Linked DNA regions of Homo sapiens: all the other regions are reported to be linked to region 1. The links are microRNA targets in miRTarBase. Many come from high-throughput screens and were not tested one by one. Region 1 holds a microRNA gene; each other region holds the end of a gene's coding sequence. Distances are from middle to middle.
The links. The annotated mature microRNA hsa-miR-6879-5p reads CAGGGCAGGGAAGGUGGGAGAG and lies in region 1 at 2,118-2,139, shown strand. An mRNA with a match to its seed (bases 2 to 7 or 8) in the 3' UTR can be bound and repressed. Matches are read on the target gene's strand: a 7mer-m8 pairs with bases 2 to 8, a 7mer-A1 pairs with bases 2 to 7 and ends in A, and an 8mer does both.

Region 1 (7,119 bases):
TGGGAACCCCCTCACCTAGGGCCTTTTGGTTTTTGGTTTTCCCTTTCAGTGAGAAGTGCAGTGGAGAGAAGGAATCGCAGACCAGTTAGGCCACTGCAGTGACGCAGGCGAGATAGGATGGTGGCTTGGACCAGGATGGAAGTAGTGAGGTCATGGAAGTTTCTGGCCTGAGCAATTAGAAGGGTGAGGAACCATTTGCTGAGATGGAGAGGACTGGGGGAGGAGCAGGTTCAGGGTGGAGATGAGAACCCTGTGTGTGCCTGTGTGTGCCATGTGAGATGCCTCCGAGACAGCCCAGAAGTGTCAGGCAGGCAGCTGGATGTAGGCACTGAGGTCCAGTGTGTGGGAGGTGCACATTTGGGTGTTATCAGGATAGAGATGGTATTTGAAGCTGTGATCCTGGATGAGGTCACCCAGGGATGAGCGTGGCCAGAGAAGAGAACCCGGTTGTACCAGGATGAAGTCAGGTGAGGAGCAGAACCAGGTGAGGGTGTGTCCCAGTGCCAAGGGCAGCGCATGTGCTGGGGAGGAGGGTGAGCCACTCCATCAGGTGCTGAGTGGGGAACAGAAGATGACTGAGCGCTGTCCCAGCACTAGAGGGCCACAGGGAGGTCTTTGGGGACTGACCTTGGTAAGGACAGTTTTGGCCACAGCAGCAGCAAAAGCCTGATGGGAGTGTGTTCTTGAAAGAGCAAGAAGGCAGAAATGGGGGTGAGCACAAACAACTATTTTGAGATTTCCTGTAAAAGGAAAGATATAAATGAATAACTAGATGGGGCAGAGAGATCAAGGGCTTTGTTTGCTCTTTTTTTTTTTTTAATCAGACGGGGTCTCGCTGAGTCGCCCAGGCTGGAGTACAGTGGTGTGATCTCGGCTCATTGCAACCTCTGCCTGCCGGGTTCAAGCAATTCTCCTGTCTCAGCCTCCCGAGTAGCTGGGACTATAGGGGCCCGCCACCACGCCTGGCTGATTTTTGTAGTTTTAGTAGAGATGGGGTTTCACCTTGTTGGTCAGGCTGGTTTCGAACTCCTGACCTCAGATGATCCACCCACCTTGGCCTCCCAAAGTGCTGGGATTACAGGTGTGAGCCACCGCGCCCGGCCTATTTGCTCTTTTTAAGGTGGGAGAAAGAACGGCAAGCTCATCAGCCAGTGGGAATGATCAAGAGGGGAAGGAAACATGGATGATGGCTTGGGGGCAGGGGGTCATCAGCGGCTAGGTTCCAGGGGCTAAGGCTGGGCCTCAGGGGAAATGCCCTCCTCACCCCTCTCCTGGGCCTAGGTCATTTGCCCCAGCTCCGATGAGCAGGGAAAGGTGGTCGAGTCCAGGACCCGCCCACCCCACCATGCCCAACTGAGCTGCAGTGTTGGGAAGATAGAGGAGGGTGGTTCCTTCCACAGGTAAGCACACCCATTAATTTGCACTGTGCAGTAGCAGGTCTGGAATATTCCAGAAACAAATGAGGGTGGCTGCCTCCAGATATTTGTTCTTACCTTAGTTCTTCAAAAAGCTTGCTCCTTGTATTTTGGGTCTCAGCTCCAGACACCTCAGAGAGGCCTTCCCCGGCACCTGAGCTGAAAGAGCCTCCTCCGATGGCCCTCTTGGAAAGCCTCTCTGTTGTGTTGATGGCGCTAGCCGGGATCTGGCAGGGCCTTCTTTTCTCATTTGTTTGTACTTTATTGACTGTCTTCCCGCTAGAGTGTAAGCTTCCTAAGGGCAGGGCTTTGTCCTCTAGCACCCAGAAGAGGGTCTGGCACATAGTAGGTGTTCAACAAATTAAGGAGCCTTTGGTCAGTAGAGATGATATTTATAATTTGATACTTTCATATTTATTGTGGGCCGATTATGGTCAGGCATGTGCTCAACTCAGTTTGATACATGGTGGGAAATAATGAGTCCCCTAAGGGGCTCTGCAACAATGTCACCACCTGGCAGAGAACAGGGACTTCTCCTTAACCTGCTGCGCCCCAGTGGCCTGGACAATGCTGGAAAGACAACCATCCTGAAGAAGTTCAATGGGGAGGACATCGACACCATCTCCCCAACGCTGGGCTTCAACATCAAGACCCTGGAGCACCGAGGGTGAGCAGGGGCCCCATGGGAGGGCCAGCCCAGAGCAGGGCAGGGAAGGTGGGAGAGGGGCCCAGCTGACCCTCCTGTCACCCGCTCCTTGCCCAGATTCAAGCTGAACATCTGGGATGTGGGTGGCCAGAAGTCCCTGCGGTCCTACTGGCGGAACTACTTTGAGAGCACCGATGGCCTCATCTGGGTAGTGGACAGCGCAGACCGCCAGCGCATGCAGGACTGCCAGCGGGAGCTCCAGAGCCTGCTGGTGGAGGAGGTGGGCAGCTCCTACCCTTTGTGTACATGTATGGACGTGTGGCTGCCTTCTCAGCAGATGCCCAGAGGGGCCCGTGGCCCCAGAGGGAAACCAGAGGCAGGATCCCTTCCTTCTCTGGGCCCCCACCATGGGAGGCCCATGGTGCCAGAGGCAGGACACATGCTGTGGACTGAGATTGAGTTAACGTCCCTGTGGTGTTACTACGTCACTACCCTGAGCATCAGTTTCTATGCCTTGAAATGGTGATGATGACACCCACATCACTGGGCTTTAGGGAGGATAACCCAAGGCCAGTATGAAGCTTCGAGAGGCCATGGAGCCTGGCTCAAGAGTCTGACTCTTTGCTGTGTGACCTCAGCTGGGGGTGGTGGCACGCACCTATAGTCCTAGCTACTCTGGAGGCTCAGACAGGAGGATCAGTTGAGCCCAGGAGGTTGAGGCTGCAGTGAGCTGTGATCGTGCCACTGCACTCCAGCCTCCTGGGCGACAGAGCAAGACCCTGTCTCAAAAAAAAAAAAAAAGGAAGGGGCCAGGTGCGGTGGCTCACGCCTGTAATCCCAGCACTTTGGGAGGCTGAAGCGGGCGGATCACGAGGTCAGGAGATCGAGACCGTCCTGGCTAACATGGTGAAACCCCGTGTCTACTAAAAATACAAAAAATTAGCCAGGCATGGTGGCGGGCGCCTGTAGTCCCAGCTACTCAGGAGGCTGAGGCAGGAAAATGGCGTGAACCTGGGAGGCGGAGCTTGCAGTGAGCCGAGATTGTGCCACTGCACTCCAGCCTGGGCAACAGAGTGAGACTCCGTCTCAAAAAAAAAAAAGAAGGACACTTGCAAAGATAGTACAGAGGTCAGAGGTCCCCCATATACCCTTTACCTTGCTTCCCCATCTTACCTAACCGTGGCCTGTCCAAACTAATAAATCAACACTGGTGAATTACTATTATCTTAATTACAGATTTTATTTGAATTTCACGTTTTTCCACTAATATACTTTTTGTGTTCCAATGTTTGATTCAGGCTACAAAATTGCATTTAGTTGAAAATGAGGACACTTGTGAGAGTGAAAGGGGGGATTCTGCAGGCAGAGTGGGGACTGTCCTGGGCACACCGCACACATCTCCTATGTGGGTGGAGCAGGTCAGATGAGATCAGGGCCGTCAAATGCTGGTCAAGGCAGGTCAAGGCCCAAGGGTTAGACCCGTCCACCCACATCTCTCCCAATCACAGACACATATGTGGAAACAACTAGAATCAGAGGTGGACAGTGAGGCCTGTCGGGAGTGGAACGGTTAAAGGGCTGTGTGAACCCAGAAGAGGGAGAGTTCACATCCTCTGTGCATGTCTGGTCATCAGATTGGAGCAGTCTAGAACCACGGAGAGCTCAGGGATCATCTTATGCAACACCCCTCCCTGTTCATGGAAGAGGAAGCTGGAGCATGGGGACAGCGGTGTCCCCTGGGTGGTGGTTGGCTGGAACCAGAACCCTGGCCCAGGGCTGCTCCATTCATGTGGGCCAGCCTTGATGGCTACGTCCACAAACTCACTCCTGGGCCTCTCCCACCACCACGGGGCCTCACCTTGATCTTCCAGGTCGATCCTTCACCCCAGATGCTCTGGGCCATTAGAGGAGGGGTCAGGCTGTCCTCTGAGTCCCCACCCCACCCCTCTATCTTTTCTCCCCCAGCGCCTGGCCGGAGCAACCCTCCTCATCTTTGCTAATAAGCAGGACCTGCCTGGAGCACTGTCCTCTAACGCCATCCGCGAGGTGAGTCCAGGCCCCGGGACAGGCTCGCTGAGGGAAAGGGGCATACATTTATTTATTTTAAAAGCATTTATTAAAAATAACCAAAAAGGCTGGGTGCAGTGGCTCACGCCTGTAATACCAGCACTTTGGGAGGCCAAGGCGAGTGGATCACCTGAGGTCAGGAGTTCGAGACCAGCCTGACCAACATGATGAAACCCCGTCTGTACTAAAAATACAAAAATTAGCTGGGTGCAGTGGCGTGCGCCTGTAAGCCCAGCTACTCAGGAGGCTGAGACAGGAGAATCGCTTGAACCCAGGACGTGGAGGTTGCAGTGAGCCAAGATTGCGCCATTGTACTCTAGCCTGTGGGAAAAGAGTGAGACTTCGTCTCAAAAAAAAAAAAAAAAAGAAAGAAGTAAAATAATAATAAGAAAAGCATTTATTAGCCTAGCCCTGCTAGGTGGCAGGACCTATGCAGGGCACTGGGGATCCAGTGATTAATAAGGCATGGGGTGGCCCACAGCCTGGGGAAGGCAGAGCTGCGCATGTGTTGTTCACAGGCTAACGGTAGCCAGCACAAGTCAGTGCTTTCAGTATGCTCTGCTCCTTGCATGGATTAACTCATTTCATTCTCACAACCACCTCATGAGGTGAGAACTATTATTTTACAGATGGTGAAGCAGGCTCACAGAGGTTAGGTAACTTGTCCCAGGTCACACAGCCACTAAATAGACAGGAAGCCTGTGTCTGACCCCAGAGCCCACATTTTAACCATGATTCTAGTGCTCAAGCACCACAGTGAGAAAGAGCAGGGTTAAAATCTTGGCTCTGCCACTTATGAGCTATGTTCCCCTAGGCAGGTTGCTTAACCTCTCTGAACTTTGGTTTCCTCCTTGGTGAAATGGTCGACACAATCCCTGGCTCATGAGGGCTTGAGGAGAATGAGTGAGAGAGGGTGTGTGGGGCTCCTAGCACGATGCCCGGATCCTGGTGGATGCTCAGGAGCCCATGCTGCATTTACATCACTAAGGGGCAGCACTGGCATGGAACTGGACAGAGAGCCCAGGTGCCCCTGGGGTCTGACAAACTCTCCCTGGGACCGGCGGGGCTTCCTGGATGGGATGACATGGAGCAGGGCCTTGAGGAAGGCGTGGAGTTCCTCTGGGCTGGGGAGGGAAGGGGCTGACGGCAGGCAGGGTCTGCAGTCACTGGCCACCACCATCAGCACCTTTGTCCTCCCAGGTCCTGGAGCTGGACTCCATCCGCAGCCACCACTGGTGCATCCAGGGCTGCAGCGCCGTCACCGGGGAGAACCTGCTGCCGGGCATCGACTGGCTCCTGGATGACATTTCCAGCCGCATTTTCACAGCTGACTGAACCACTCCAGATGCCCCCCACCTAGCAGTCCAGGTCCCTCAACCTTCACCAAACACTACCCATGGGGGGTTGGGAGTCAGCCGGCCAAACTAACACTCCCCCTCCTCCACCCCAGCCTGCTGCTGCTACTGCTGCCCGCTGCTGCTCTGTGGCCACCCGGCTCCCATGGCGGGAGGGCTGTGCCCTGGCTGTCTCTCTGGCTCCTGACCTGGCCTTTGGCTACCATACCAAGAAGAGAGGGCTGGGCGGGGAGGAGCTGCTACTGCTGCTACCGAGGCTGTGGGCCTCATCCTTCACTCAGTTGTGAAATAAACCGCTCCTTGCCCCGATTCCTGGCTGAGTCATTTGTTGATTCAACAGCGTTAGAGACCACCTGGGACCCTCAATCTAGCAGGGGACAGAAAGGAATGGATCATTGGAGTCGATGGTGAACTGTGGCTATGTCAAAGGGATGCAGAAAAAGTTATAGAAGCATGGGACACGGTGCAACTGATTCCATCTGCAGGCTTCCTAAAGGAGGTCACATTAAAGCTGGGAGTAAAGCGCGAGTAGTTTTCTAGGTAGAGGAAGGGGAAGACAGTTCACCAGGGGAAATCCAACTCTCATAGGTATGAATTAGAAAAACAGACACAGCTGCAGACCAGGGCTCCAACTTTTTGCATGGAACATGGGCTGAAATTCAGCTCCCAATTCTCTGTTGCAGCCAGGAACCCATGTGCAGTGGACAACCTGAACAGCTGTACAAGGCCAGCACAGATTCAGGCAGAGGGGATCACAGGACAGGCATGATGAGCAAGGGCTCCGGCTGGGCGCGGTGGCTCACCTGTAATCCCAGCACTTTGGGAGGCCAAGATGGGCGGATCATGAAGTCAGGAGATCAAGACCATCCTGGCTAACACGGTGAAACCCCGTCTCTACTAAAAATACAAAAAATTATCCGGGCGTGGTGGCGGGCGCCTGTAGTCCCAGCTACTCGGGAGGCTGAGGCAGGAGAATGGCGTGAACCCGGGAAGACGGAGCTGGCAGTGAGCCGAGATTGCGCCACTGCACTCCAGCCTGGGTGACAGAGCGAGACTCTGTCTCAAAAAAAAAAAGCAATGGCTCTTGGGAAATGGGGAGGTGCATAGAGTCATGTGTAGGAGAGAGTGCAGCCAGAGGGTGGGAGGGGGGCCACATCAGGCAGGGGTAACTGAGGCCTTCCCTGAAGGCTACAGGAACTCAGAAGCAGTGCCAGGTTGGGAAAGGATAGGAAATGAGGCCACCCCAGGGGTCCAATCCAAGTGGCAAAACTGGCAGATGTTTTCATGGCACAGGGTCCTAGCAGCTGCTTACTCTGCAGGGTTCTGTGTGAAGGGGTGGCCTGTCCCTCCACACCTGTGGGTATATCTCGTCAGGTGGGACGAGAGACTGAGAAAAGAAATAGGACACAAAGTATAGAGAAAGAAAAGTGGGCCCAGGGGACCGGCGCTCAGCATACCAAGGACCCACACTGGGACCGGTCTCTTAGTTTCTTCAGTTTTTATTGATTATTACTTTCACTATCTCAGCAAGAAGAATGTGGTAGGAGAGCAGGGTGATAATAGGGAGAAGGTCAGCAAAAAAACGTGAGCAAAAGAATCTGTGTCATAATTAAGTTCAAGGGGAGGTACTATGCCT
Region 2 (7,119 bases), not on the chromosome of region 1:
CCCTCCAACACCCCCATCCCACCCTGGGCTGCTCCCGCTGCGGCTGGAACAGTGTGGGCTGCTAAAGGCTCACCCCTCCGCCCTCCTCTGCAGTGCCCTTGCTGCTGGGATCCTCCTTGCCGGAGATCATCTGCTCCCTGCCCCTGAGGGAGCAGCCCAGCTCTCTGCTCTCTGCACACGGGAGCACGGACGCTGCCACTGTTTGGAGGAGGGCGGTGCAGCTCTGCAGTGCTGCCCCCCAGGCCAGGGCCCCCGCGGGATCAGGCTCTGGGCTCCCGCCCCCGCCAGCCCTGCTGCCCTCTCCCTTTCCCCAGAGAGCCAAGTCCCATGCAGCAGAACTCCAGTCTCAGGATCGCTTCTGGACAACCCACCTGAGACAGCCGCCCTCCCTCACTCCCGCTCTGCTTCCTCCAGCCGCAGGTCTACGCCCCGCCTCGGCCCACCGACCGCCTGGCCGTGCCGCCCTTCGCCCAGCGGGAGCGCTTCCACCGCTTCCAGCCCACCTATCCGTACCTGCAGCACGAGATCGACCTGCCACCCACCATCTCGCTGTCAGACGGGGAGGAGCCCCCACCCTACCAGGGCCCCTGCACCCTCCAGCTTCGGGACCCCGAGCAGCAGCTGGAACTGAACCGGGAGTCGGTGCGCGCACCCCCAAACAGAACCATCTTCGACAGTGACCTGATGGATAGTGCCAGGCTGGGCGGCCCCTGCCCCCCCAGCAGTAACTCGGGCATCAGCGCCACGTGCTACGGCAGCGGCGGGCGCATGGAGGGGCCGCCGCCCACCTACAGCGAGGTCATCGGCCACTACCCGGGGTCCTCCTTCCAGCACCAGCAGAGCAGTGGGCCGCCCTCCTTGCTGGAGGGGACCCGGCTCCACCACACACACATCGCGCCCCTAGAGAGCGCAGCCATCTGGAGCAAAGAGAAGGATAAACAGAAAGGACACCCTCTCTAGGGTCCCCAGGGGGGCCGGGCTGGGGCTGCGTAGGTGAAAAGGCAGAACACTCCGCGCTTCTTAGAAGAGGAGTGAGAGGAAGGCGGGGGGCGCAGCAACGCATCGTGTGGCCCTCCCCTCCCACCTCCCTGTGTATAAATATTTACATGTGATGTCTGGTCTGAATGCACAAGCTAAGAGAGCTTGCAAAAAAAAAAAGAAAAAAGAAAAAAAAAAACCACGTTTCTTTGTTGAGCTGTGTCTTGAAGGCAAAAGAAAAAAAATTTCTACAGTAGTCTTTCTTGTTTCTAGTTGAGCTGCGTGCGTGAATGCTTATTTTCTTTTGTTTATGATAATTTCACTTAACTTTAAAGACATATTTGCACAAAACCTTTGTTTAAAGATCTGCAATATTATATATATAAATATATATAAGATAAGAGAAACTGTATGTGCGAGGGCAGGAGTATTTTTGTATTAGAAGAGGCCTATTAAAAAAAAAAGTTGTTTTCTGAACTAGAAGAGGAAAAAAATGGCAATTTTTGAGTGCCAAGTCAGAAAGTGTGTATTACCTTGTAAAGAAAAAAATTACAAAGCAGGGGTTTAGAGTTATTTATATAAATGTTGAGATTTTGCACTATTTTTTAATATAAATATGTCAGTGCTTGCTTGATGGAAACTTCTCTTGTGTCTGTTGAGACTTTAAGGGAGAAATGTCGGAATTTCAGAGTCGCCTGACGGCAGAGGGTGAGCCCCCGTGGAGTCTGCAGAGAGGCCTTGGCCAGGAGCGGCGGGCTTTCCCGAGGGGCCACTGTCCCTGCAGAGTGGATGCTTCTGCCTAGTGACAGGTTATCACCACGTTATATATTCCCTACCGAAGGAGACACCTTTTCCCCCCTGACCCAGAACAGCCTTTAAATCACAAGCAAAATAGGAAAGTTAACCACGGAGGCACCGAGTTCCAGGTAGTGGTTTTGCCTTTCCCAAAAATGAAAATAAACTGTTACCGAAGGAATTAGTTTTTCCTCTTCTTTTTTCCAACTGTGAAGGTCCCCGTGGGGTGGAGCATGGTGCCCCTCACAAGCCGCAGCGGCTGGTGCCCGGGCTACCAGGGACATGCCAGAGGGCTCGATGACTTGTCTCTGCAGGGCGCTTTGGTGGTTGTTCAGCTGGCTAAAGGTTCACCGGTGAAGGCAGGTGCGGTAACTGCCGCACTGGACCCTAGGAAGCCCCAGGTATTCGCAATCTGACCTCCTCCTGTCTGTTTCCCTTCACGGATCAATTCTCACTTAAGAGGCCAATAAACAACCCAACATGAAAAGGTGACAAGCCTGGGTTTCTCCCAGGATAGGTGAAAGGGTTAAAATGAGTAAAGCAGTTGAGCAAACACCAACCCGAGCTTCGGGCGCAGAATTCTTCACCTTCTCTTCCCCTTTCCATCTCCTTTCCCCGCGGAAACAACGCTTCCCTTCTGGTGTGTCTGTTGATCTGTGTTTTCATTTACATCTCTCTTAGACTCCGCTCTTGTTCTCCAGGTTTTCACCAGATAGATTTGGGGTTGGCGGGACCTGCTGGTGACGTGCAGGTGAAGGACAGGAAGGGGCATGTGAGCGTAAATAGAGGTGACCAGAGGAGAGCATGAGGGGTGGGGCTTTGGGACCCACCGGGGCCAGTGGCTGGAGCTTGACGTCTTTCCTCCCCATGGGGGTGGGAGGGCCCCCAGCTGGAAGAGCAGACTCCCAGCTGCTACCCCCTCCCTTCCCATGGGAGTGGCTTTCCATTTTGGGCAGAATGCTGACTAGTAGACTAACATAAAAGATATAAAAGGCAATAACTATTGTTTGTGAGCAACTTTTTTATAACTTCCAAAACAAAAACCTGAGCACAGTTTTGAAGTTCTAGCCACTCGAGCTCATGCATGTGAAACGTGTGCTTTACGAAGGTGGCAGCTGACAGACGTGGGCTCTGCATGCCGCCAGCCTAGTAGAAAGTTCTCGTTCATTGGCAACAGCAGAACCTGCCTCTCCGTGAAGTCGTCAGCCTAAAATTTGTTTCTCTCTTGAAGAGGATTCTTTGAAAAGGTCCTGCAGAGAAATCAGTACAGGTTATCCCGAAAGGTACAAGGACGCACTTGTAAAGATGATTAAAACGTATCTTTCCTTTATGTGACGCGTCTCTAGTGCCTTACTGAAGAAGCAGTGACACTCCCGTCGCTCGGTGAGGACGTTCCCGGACAGTGCCTCACTCACCTGGGACTGGTATCCCCTCCCAGGGTCCACCAAGGGCTCCTGCTTTTCAGACACCCCATCATCCTCGCGCGTCCTCACCCTGTCTCTACCAGGGAGGTGCCTAGCTTGGTGAGGTTACTCCTGCTCCTCCAACCTTTTTTTGCCAAGGTTTGTACACGACTCCCATCTAGGCTGAAAACCTAGAAGTGGACCTTGTGTGTGTGCATGGTGTCAGCCCAAAGCCAGGCTGAGACAGTCCTCATATCCTCTTGAGCCAAACTGTTTGGGTCTCGTTGCTTCATGGTATGGTCTGGATTTGTGGGAATGGCTTTGCGTGAGAAAGGGGAGGAGAGTGGTTGCTGCCCTCAGCCGGCTTGAGGACAGAGCCTGTCCCTCTCATGACAACTCAGTGTTGAAGCCCAGTGTCCTCAGCTTCATGTCCAGTGGATGGCAGAAGTTCATGGGGTAGTGGCCTCTCAAAGGCTGGGCGCATCCCAAGACAGCCAGCAGGTTGTCTCTGGAAACGACCAGAGTTAAGCTCTCGGCTTCTCTGCTGAGGGTGCACCCTTTCCTCTAGATGGTAGTTGTCACGTTATCTTTGAAAACTCTTGGACTGCTCCTGAGGAGGCCCTCTTTTCCAGTAGGAAGTTAGATGGGGGTTCTCAGAAGTGGCTGATTGGAAGGGGACAAGCTTCGTTTCAGGGGTCTGCCGTTCCATCCTGGTTCAGAGAAGGCCGAGCGTGGCTTTCTCTAGCCTTGTCACTGTCTCCCTGCCTGTCAATCACCACCTTTCCTCCAGAGGAGGAAAATTATCTCCCCTGCAAAGCCCGGTTCTACACAGATTTCACAAATTGTGCTAAGAACCGTCCGTGTTCTCAGAAAGCCCAGTGTTTTTGCAAAGAATGAAAAGGGACCCCATATGTAGCAAAAATCAGGGCTGGGGGAGAGCCGGGTTCATTCCCTGTCCTCATTGGTCGTCCCTATGAATTGTACGTTTCAGAGAAATTTTTTTTCCTATGTGCAACACGAAGCTTCCAGAACCATAAAATATCCCGTCGATAAGGAAAGAAAATGTCGTTGTTGTTGTTTTTCTGGAAACTGCTTGAAATCTTGCTGTACTATAGAGCTCAGAAGGACACAGCCCGTCCTCCCCTGCCTGCCTGATTCCATGGCTGTTGTGCTGATTCCAATGCTTTCACGTTGGTTCCTGGCGTGGGAACTGCTCTCCTTTGCAGCCCCATTTCCCAAGCTCTGTTCAAGTTAAACTTATGTAAGCTTTCCGTGGCATGCGGGGCGCGCACCCACGTCCCCGCTGCGTAAGACTCTGTATTTGGATGCCAATCCACAGGCCTGAAGAAACTGCTTGTTGTGTATCAGTAATCATTAGTGGCAATGATGACATTCTGAAAAGCTGCAATACTTATACAATAAATTTTACAATTCTTTGGAATGAGGCTTTTTCACTTCTTTGGCCAAATGTAGCTCTTCTCACTTCCCACCCCTTTCTACAATAACCCCGGGTGCATTCAAGGGAGGCGAAGCGATCCCTCGGAGCTGCTGGGCAACCTTGAACAGTTCGTTCAAACTTTCTGTTTTATTAGTTCAGGCAGCATTCAGGGAGCCCAGTGAAAACACTAGCTCAGGCAGGTTCTGGTAAAGGGGGTGGTCGTTGTTAAACAATTTTGCAAAACACTGCATACTTTTCCTCCGTCGGGAAATCATTATTCACCATAGCATGACGAAAGCTCTGATAAGGTCTGCAAGGAAAAAAGAAACTGTCTTAGGTAGGGTTCTTCCAGAAGTAACCCCAAGACGTGGCCTTGTGTGTAAGGGATTAGGACGTTTTAAGGATGTGCTCCCAGGGGGCTTCCGCTAAGGGAGTCAGGGAAGAGGATCAAGGAGGGGGAGAACCTGAGCAAGGGAGACACTTGTGGACAGAGTTCCAGCCTCAGCTTGATCCCAAGAGGACCTGTGGGGGCTCTGGACCCTGGAAAGGTAGAGTCCCAGACCCCTCTGGCTCCTGGTGCACAAGATGGAGGAGTGAGTCTCAGAAGCTGCAGAACTGTCCTCCCAGAAGCCAGCCACTAGCAATGCTCATGGAGACAGGGGGAGGGCTGTACAGACTCCCTAAAGGGTTCCAGTGGGACCTGGGGGCACCTGCAGCACCCACTACAGACCCTGTCTCATTTATTTTACTACACTTGGCCCTTGAACAACGAGGGGTTCAAGGCACGCTGAACCCCCTTGCTGTCAAAAATCCATGCGTTACTTGTAAATAAAATTTTTTTAGAGATGGGGATCTCGCCTTGTCACCTAGGCTGGAGTACAGTGGTATGATCATAGCTCACTGCAGCCTTGACCTCCCTCGAGGCTCACAAGGCCCTGCAGAGCCTTCCCATTCTCTCTGGCATCTCCCAGATGTTCCAGCAACATGCACCGGTTTCTCCCCCCACACACCCCATTTTCTCCCTGTGGCTATGCTCACTGCTGCCCCTTCTGCCTGGGATCCCCTTCTCTCAAAGCCCACATTGCCCTGACATCATTCAGACCCAGACCCAGTTCTGATAGCACCTTCTCCAGAAAGCCTCCCAGGATGCCCCCAGCTTCTCTGTGCCGGCTCTACTGAGGCAGTCACTGCACTGCTTGTGGCGTTCATGGCTCCTCCCCAAGGTCACTGCACTGCCTGAGGTCAGGGCCAGACTCACGTCCATTGTCCATGGGGGATAAACACGTGCTCCCAGGAGGGACCAGGCCTGCACTCCACAACTGCTTCCATTCTCACAACACCCCATTCTTCAGACATGGAAACCGAGGCAGAGAAGTCAGCCGGCCTTCTGTGTCACTGGCTTGGAAGAGTTGGGATGCTCTATCCCACCCACGCTGTTTCCTCATCCAATTTCCTCAAAATCTTCCCATGGATGGACAGTCAGATATGAGTAGACAGATGTGCACCATCCAGCTGCCTGTCCACCCCTGGCCTCCCCCACCCACCCCAGTGCAGCCAGTAGGAAACAGGGGAGGAGTGGGCACAGGAGCTGGCACACTTGTATCTGTCTGGGGGCTTCTGGCTGCAAGTAACAAAAAATAAGCAAACAGGGATTTCAGTGACTAGGAAATGCATTATTTCGATAGCAAGATGCTCTAAGGAGTGTCAGGGCCCTGCTGGGCTCCTGGGCTGTTTGTGTCGTCCCTCTAGACCAGGGGTCACCAAACATTGGCCCATACACCAAATCCCCAGCTGCCTGTTTTTGTAAATAAAGCTTTATTGGAAAACAGCCACACCAGTTTAGTTACAGGTCACCTATGGCTGCTTTTGTGCTGCAATGGTAGAGTTGAGTAATTGCCACAAAGGCCATACGATGTACAAAGCCTAAAATGTTTAGAATCTGACCCTTTGCCAAAGTTTTCTGATCTCTGCTGTATTCGTTTGTTTTCACACTGCTGATAAAGACATTCCAGAGACTGGGCAATTTACAAAAGAAAGAGGTTTATTAGACTTGCAGTTCCAGGTGGCTGGGGAGGCCTCACAATCATGGCAGAAGCTGAAAGGCACATCTCACATGGCAGCAGACAAGAGAAGAGAGCTTGTGCAGCAAAACTTCCATTTTTAAAACCATCAGATCTTGTAAGACTTATTCACTATCACAAGAACAGCATGGGAAAGACGCATCCCCGTGATTCAATTTCCTCCCACCAGATTCCTCCCATGACATGTAGTAATTGTGGGAGATACAATTCAAGAGGAGATTTGGGTGGGTACACAGCCAAACCTTACCATTCCACCCCTGAACCCTCCCAAATCTCATATCCATTTTTACATTTCAAAACAAAACATGCCTTCCCAACAGTCCCCCAAATTCTTAACTCATTTCAGCATTAACTCAAAAGTCGACAGTCCAAAGTCTCATCAAAGACAAGGCAAGCCCCTTCTGCCTATGAGCCTATAACATCA
Region 3 (7,119 bases), 38 Mb from region 1:
CGTAGATGTGTATATTTATGTATTTTGTATCAGCATTTAAAACTAGGAGATTTTGTATTAAAATACAACATTTAGATTTGTTGGAAAAATTTAAAAAGTCTGACAAAACTGTACCTTTATAGTACTCCTTTATAGGAGTCAGAGGCTGGAGTCAAGTGTTAACTGTGTTGGACTTGCTTTTCAGTTTGACAGTTCATGGTATGCCAACACCTAGGCTGTTTTTCAGTTGCCATTTATTATCATATGTGCTCTGCTGCTTTTCTTACGATAGAGAAACATGTCTGTCAAAAGCAATGGAAAAAGACCACCAGAGGATTATGTGTTTTAAGAAGAATAAAGCAAGCATATTTCTTTGTGGCGGTGATTTTTTTCCTACATTTAAACAAAATAAACACTGAGCTCATTTAAACTGCCTACTTGGCTCTGTCAGCAAATGAGTTTGGACCTCCCCTACGTTATAAAAATATATGTTTTAGAATAGTACTTAGCTCATTAATTAGATATTCATTAGGCACTTGCTTTGTGTTCAGCTTTGTACTACATCCTGTTATTGGAATAAAGTAAGTCTCTATTATGGCTGATCCCTCTCAACAAGCTTGTACACTTCTTGGGGAGGCAACATAGAAATATTACCTTCAACACTTTTCAGATTGTTTCATAATTAAATGCCAGAATGCTATGGACACTTAGAAAAAGGGAGAGATTTGTATTGACTCAGTTACTGGAGGGTTCATGAAACACCTTGAGAAGGAAGTTGCTATAGATACCATTGTTCCTTGTGTCTTTAAGGGCAAAAAAGAAAAGGCTAATAAGAAAGCACCATTAAATGGAATAAGGTGTCTAGAAGCAGAACACCCAAAGAAAGGAAGGGTCATTCCTCTGTCATTGCAGAGCTCGTGGGGAGTTTGTTTTATAATTGGAGAGATGAGTTCACTGAATTCTGACAAAAATGGTTTCTTTTTTTCTAGGGCCTGTTCTTCTTGATGAATTTGTTGAGTGGCAAAAAGTCCGTCAGACATCATAGCAAGAACTATGTGAAGAAAATGCAAACCTTTCAATTCCCACGTGTATACAAGCTAATGTGATGAGGGGGAAAAAAATCCAACGGGTGCATTTTCATTCATATGAAAGACTTCTCATAGTACTTTTTTTTCCTTTTTTTAAAGGAGGTTTTTCTTGTTACATGTGATGGGCATTGAGCCACACCTCTTCTTAGACTGAATATTGAAGTTTTTGTTTTGAGTTATGTTTATAACATTTATTTCAGAACAATAAAGATTCAGATTTGTGACAAAGGCCTTAAAGTGAAGATGTCCCTTGAGTGTCAGAGTGGTATTTATTTTTGTAAATTTGAATTTTTTGATTTTTGAGGTTCCAATTCACCGTGAATTTACAGAATTTTCAAGATTTTAAACAGTCTTAATATTTGGCAACATAGTCTGCTGATGGTATGGCTCATTATAGTCATCTCTGCACAATTTGGAAGACTGTTGGCCTTGACTTCTGGGATAATGATTTGCTGATGCAGCTAATAAACATTTCTAGGTATTGGAAAAATGCTCCTACTTTTAGCTCTGGGTTTCTATAAAAGCTGCCAAGGTCTTATGCAGATGTCTTATCTCAGAGAGCTTAGAATTGGAAAGATTATGTCCAGTTGTTTTGTTTTCTAAAAAAGTTGTATTATTAAGTTGTATCATCATTATTATTGTTGATAATAGCATATTTATATTTTTAACTGTCATTATATAGGGAATTTTGTTTAAAGCACTTTTTTTTTTTTTTTTTGCCTTAAGAGAACGTTAGCTGTGATATGGATTTAATTAAGATACACATAGGAAAAGAAGACAATAGAATAAGGAATCATGAGAGAACTCTGGGTATAATTAATTGTGCACAACTCAATAGAGCCATTTACGTTGGTAGTATTGCAGCTTGCTAATTATCACAATTTTCTGCCTGTTGGTAATCAAGTGTCTTGAGGAAAGGGAAGGCTTTCCTAATTCATGTAAAAGGCACTTTTGTACTAGCAGCAGGCCTGTTTGTACATTCCTTTTCAAACCATCCAGTATCCCAGTGATATGAAAACTTTGTTCATATTCATAGCCCAGTCACAACTTCAGAAACATTTCTAGTGTCATTGTTTGAGTAGAGAGAAGTAAAGAGGTTATTTTTCCATAATAAGGGAGTGTTTCTATTAGGATTTAAGGTAAAGGTTGATTTTTCAGTGGTGAATTTGTTTAAAGAATGATTTCTCCATATTGATTACCTAAGAGAATGACATTTTAAAGTGTTTTATTGTTTGCTTTTTAGTTAATCAGCTGGGAAAAAAATGATTGCCACTGTTTTACTTGCCTTCTTAATAAGATTACTTTGTACAGTTTTCTGAAACACCCATAATAGTGGGAGACAGTTTTCCTAAATGTCTTATAGAAAAGGATAATACAGAATGCTCCTCTTAAGTATTAGAATCACTGAGTTATGAACTGAGCATACCAGTGGTGTTAGGATTTAATATTATGAATGATGTTTTAATATCAAATTTATTATAAGGAAAGCATTTAGATTTGTAGACCTTTAAATTTATAATTTAGTTGACTCTTCAAGGCACATCTGAACTGAAGAACATATCCACTTTTGTTAAATTCCAAAACATATAAGCAAAATCTTATAAATTGTCCATTTGTAACCTGAACTAATGGTAATATCTTTTTCATCTTCAGTATTTGAGTAAAATAGGGAACACTTAAAGCTTATAGATGACATGTTTTTTAAAAGGTATATTTATGAAAGCACAGGCATCCTTGGTATACGCAGGAGATTGATACCAGGACCCTTGTGTATACCCAAATCTGTGCATACTTAAGTCCTACAGTCATCCCTGTGGAACCTGCCTGTATAAAAAGTCAGCCCTCCCCGTGTATGTAGGTGTCGCATCCCGGGAATACTGTATTTTCAATCCATGTTTGGTTTAAAAAAATCTGCGTATAAGCAGACCCACACAGTTCAAACTCATGCTGTTCAAGGGTCAACAGTATTTACTTTGCATACTTATCCAAAGATACCTTTAAGACTTTTTGAGTCTGAAAATGAAATTTACTTTATTTTTTCCCTTAAAGTCAACTGTCCTATCCTACCCTAGCCATACTTTGGAGTCCAGTACCACTGAGGCCACGCTTGCTTTACTCTATTGCTCCATCTATTTCTCTTACCTTCTTAAAGTTATAACATTTGCCTACTTTGAAGGCAAATTTACTCTGCCTAATTCATCAGTCAGGGTGTGGGCTGTGTCCCTTCCTGTCTTTCCTTTGTTAATTTTGAATAGCATTTAATTTACTGGGAAATTTATGATCAAAAATGTTAAGTGATATAAACAATACAATATTAAGGACCCTGCAGTATAAAAAAGTCTAACTGTTGTGGTTCCTTTTTTGACTAGTTAGCTTTAAGTGCCTTCCCACGAACCCTGTTGTAAAATTTTCAGAACTACTTCCCTTTGTACAGGATGAAATACCGTATGGTGCTTTATAACATGGAGTTGAGTTGTTTCTATAAGAATATTATACAAATGTAATACTACTGGGAGAAAGTAGAGCCAGATGTTGATTGGACAGATTGCAACCCCCCCACCCCCCCACTCCTCGGGGCCAATAATTCTTAATAAGGTATGATGTTAATACCTCTAGGAAATTGCCAGGGATTCAGGTGACAGTGTGTGATGAAAACGGTGTATTGTGTGCTGGCCTGACTGCATTACCATGTTTGTCTTCTATTGTCTAATGATTTCTTATTTCTTAAATGCTGCTGATAAAATTATTGATATAATACATTTTTGACAGTAGTAGCATTTTTGTGTATAATGTATAGATTTTATTGGTTTTTACTCAGAAGCACTCTAGATTAGTGTTTCTTGAACTGCAATTTGAAGCCTTCTTTGGGAATGTTAGATTGAGGAGTATTTCTCTTAAATACAAATGCCTTTTCATCTAGCAAACCAAAAATTATATCTTAATATTGAATGCCATCACTCGGGGTCGGGGTGGGAGTAAATTCTGAGATAACTCCAGAGTTTTCAAGGCATACAAGGTATGTGGAATAGCACAGATTCAGAATACATGATACATACGTATAAAATGAAACATTTCACTTTGAAGTATTTCTTCAACAAAACATGTCCTGTCTGCCTACTTGCTAATGTGAAATTATGAAAGGATTTATTGAAATATATGTTCAGTTTGAGGTGTAATTGGTAAGAATGCCAGGTGTTGTTCTTCTGCCCTCTTAAAGAAGTGTACTTAAAACTATTGTGATAATTCATCTCTGATAAAACTTTGTTCTGGCCTTCAAGGCTCTTACAGCTTAATGTTTTAAATGTCTAAGGCATCAAATAAATTGAGGGCATTTTAATAAAAAAAAAAAAGGAAAACTAAATGCCTTTCTTTGTTAAAGCAAAAGGCCAAAAATAAAAAATAAAATTAAAACCCCCCCCAAAAAAACCCAAAAGTCTTACTCCTAAAGAAGAATTCTTACCTCTAAGGAGGAATCCTTCCCTCTTGAGGAAATACCACTTTTTGAGTGACATTAGAAATCATCACAAGGAAACATTTCAAAGAAAGGATCATTTTTTTTTCAGGAGAAAGAGGAATAACAATTTCATTAACTTCCTCAATAGGAAAGGCTAGTCTGAATTATTAAATATTCTGGATTATATCTTTTTTTAATGATATAGTTTTATTACTTCAGGAATATTTGGTAAGAACCAGGTAAACCTATTGTTTAAGATTTGTTCTTTTTTGTTAATAGACCTATGATTAGTATGGTGGAAGCCCAAAAAGCAGTCTAATTTTTATGATAAACTTACAGACTGTGGAAAGATGAATTTCTGCCCCAAACCTTGGATAAGTTGTCATTAATTTAATTGTAGAGATTTTTCTAGTGAACTTGTACTTCACTGGAACAAATCTTTAGATCTTTTAAAGCACAATTTATTTATGTTTTTAAAAACAGTCTTAAAACTGATCGATCATACATTTGCTGTGTCCACCTTACAATCTTTTACATTCTATTAGTACAGATAGTGTTTCCTTTGCTCCTTTTCCTGACCAGTTGTTATTGGTGTGACCATTTTCTTTTTAGGATCGATGAAACATTTTGCTGTGTATGCTGTGTCATGTATTAGAACCTCTTATAATATGGCTCATTTTTACATGGTTTCTGATTTACCATGTGTTAAATATTCCTTAAAATACATCTAGTAACACTATATAGTAAGGTTAGATTTTAACCTAAGTATTGAATCTTGTCTTATAATGCCAATTTTATTGGAGCTTTGTTGCATTTATTTTTGGCTCTATGGTCCATAAATGGGAGTTAATAGCAAACGTTTTATTAAAAATGTCTTAGCTTTCCCCCAAATTATATCATTTTTTAGAAGTTTTATCCTTCTGGGGTGTTTTTGGCTTTCTGAGCTTTAAGATATTAATGAATTTTTTCCACATACTTCATGGGTTTGGTTTTAAGTATGAGGTTAAAATTGTGGATTTTAAAAAGCTAATAAATACTTGAAGTGAATATATAGAGAGAGCCAGATTTCCCCAAAACTCTGTGAGCTGTGTGTGTTTTGTGTAGAATATTAGCCATAATTAACTTTTCCCTTTTTTTTTTTGGAGACAGGGTCTTACTCTGTCACCCAGGATGGAGTGCAGTGGTGCGGTCTCAGCTCACTGCAGCCTCGACCTCCTGGGTTCAAGAGATTCTCGTGCGTCAACCTCCCAAGTAGCTGGGATTACAGATGCCTGCCACCATGCCCAGCTAAGTTTTGTATTTTTTTTTTTGTTTGTTTTAGTAAAGATGGGATTTCACCATGTTGGCCAGGCTGGTCTCAAACTCCTGCCCTCAAGTGATCCCACCCACCTCAGACTCCCAAAGTGCTGGGATTACAGGTGTGAGCCACCACTCCTGGGAAATAATTAACTTTTTCACATAGAAAATAGATCACAGATAAAAGCTCCTCACATATTTTGAAGGTCAAAAAAAAATTTGCTGTTGCTAACAATTGCCTTTGAACCATGAAAGAGGAAAAACTAACTTTATTTGAGCAACTTGTCATTTGAGACTTAAACTAACTTATCAAACTTAGCAGAATTAACTTGTGAGTATTGACTTAAGTGAAGTTAGTTTATATACTTTACTATTCTGTCATGCAAATAAAATGGCTTAGAGCAAGTTCATACACAGTTACTTTTATCTACAAATGTAGAAATCTTACCTATTTGAAATTTACATTATTCCCTGAAACTATGCCTATTGAGAGAGAGTTTATAGAAGTATTATCTGAGAAACCTGAGTTTGATTTTCTTTTTGTGACATTCCTGTTAATGTCACTTTTAAACAAGCCACTTAACCTATGTCATTTTCAGTTTCTTCTGTAAAATGGCGATAATGATACCTACCAGTATTGTTACGAAGTTCAAATAGGCCCTATCCACAGCACTTAGTAGGTGTTAAATGAATGCGTCTTGTTACTTGAACAAGAAGTGGTTAGTTATGATAGTTTATTTTTTTCTGACAAATTTACTGTCTTTTATAAAAAGAAATAGCTAGGATTTCCTGTGTTATCCTGCCATTTTTATAATCAAACAAAATTATTAATATTCTCCTTAGACTAAATCATTAATTTAACAAATCTCAAGCATCTACTATATGCCAAGAAGTATTCTAGGCCTGAATATATTGCAGGGCACGAAGCAAGACAGTAATTTCGAACCTTTATGGGATTTTTATTTTAATTGGTTAGTAAAATAGTTTATCATTTGGTGACAAGGTTATATGGGGAAAGTAAGTTGAGGAAGGGGCCCAGAGAGTGTGTGAGGATAGGATTACTATTAAGTAGCATGTACACTGATATGTGACATTGAGCAGAGGCCTGAGGAGGTGAATGGTTGTGCAGTGTGGATATCTGGGAGGAGAGCATTCCAGGCAGAAGGAATATTACATGCTAAGGCCCTGAGCTGGTACAGAGTGTAAAGAAACAGTAAAGAGATCAGTGTGACTGTAGTGAACAATAATAGCATTTTAGGGAGAATTAGAAAATGAACTGAGAGAGATTGGGAGTAATAATCC

Region 2: miRTarBase lists PMEPA1 as a target of hsa-miR-6879-5p. Seed matches in the 3' UTR shown: 7mer-m8 at 3,527-3,533.
Region 3: the mRNA of DCUN1D5 is a reported target of hsa-miR-6879-5p. Seed matches in the 3' UTR shown: 7mer-m8 at 4,271-4,277 and 7mer-m8 at 5,887-5,893.

The regions. Positions count from the first base shown.
Region 1 is chr11:65,016,393-65,023,511 of GRCh38, forward strand. MIR6879 (microRNA 6879) reads left to right here and starts at 2,113; the gene lies at 2,113-2,178. ARL2 (ARF like GTPase 2) reads left to right here. Exons shown (of 5, transcript NM_001667.4): 2 at 1,972-2,082; 3 at 2,179-2,341; 4 at 4,027-4,107; 5 at 5,329-5,792. The coding sequence ends at 5,463. ARL2-SNX15 (ARL2-SNX15 readthrough (NMD candidate)) reads left to right here. Exons shown (of 11, transcript NR_037650.2): 2 at 1,972-2,082; 3 at 2,179-2,341.
Region 2 is chr20:57,645,894-57,653,012 of GRCh38, reverse strand. PMEPA1 (prostate transmembrane protein, androgen induced 1) reads left to right here. Exons shown (of 4, transcript NM_020182.5): 4 at 415-4,617. The coding sequence ends at 960. Among named protein-coding and RNA genes, the nearest start is that of ZBP1, 29 kb to the right of the region's middle.
Region 3 is chr11:103,056,264-103,063,382 of GRCh38, reverse strand. It overlaps DCUN1D5 (defective in cullin neddylation 1 domain containing 5), which reads left to right. Exons shown (of 8, transcript NM_032299.4): 8 at 969-7,119. The coding sequence ends at 1,024. Among named protein-coding and RNA genes, the nearest start is that of DCUN1D5, 32 kb to the left of the region's middle.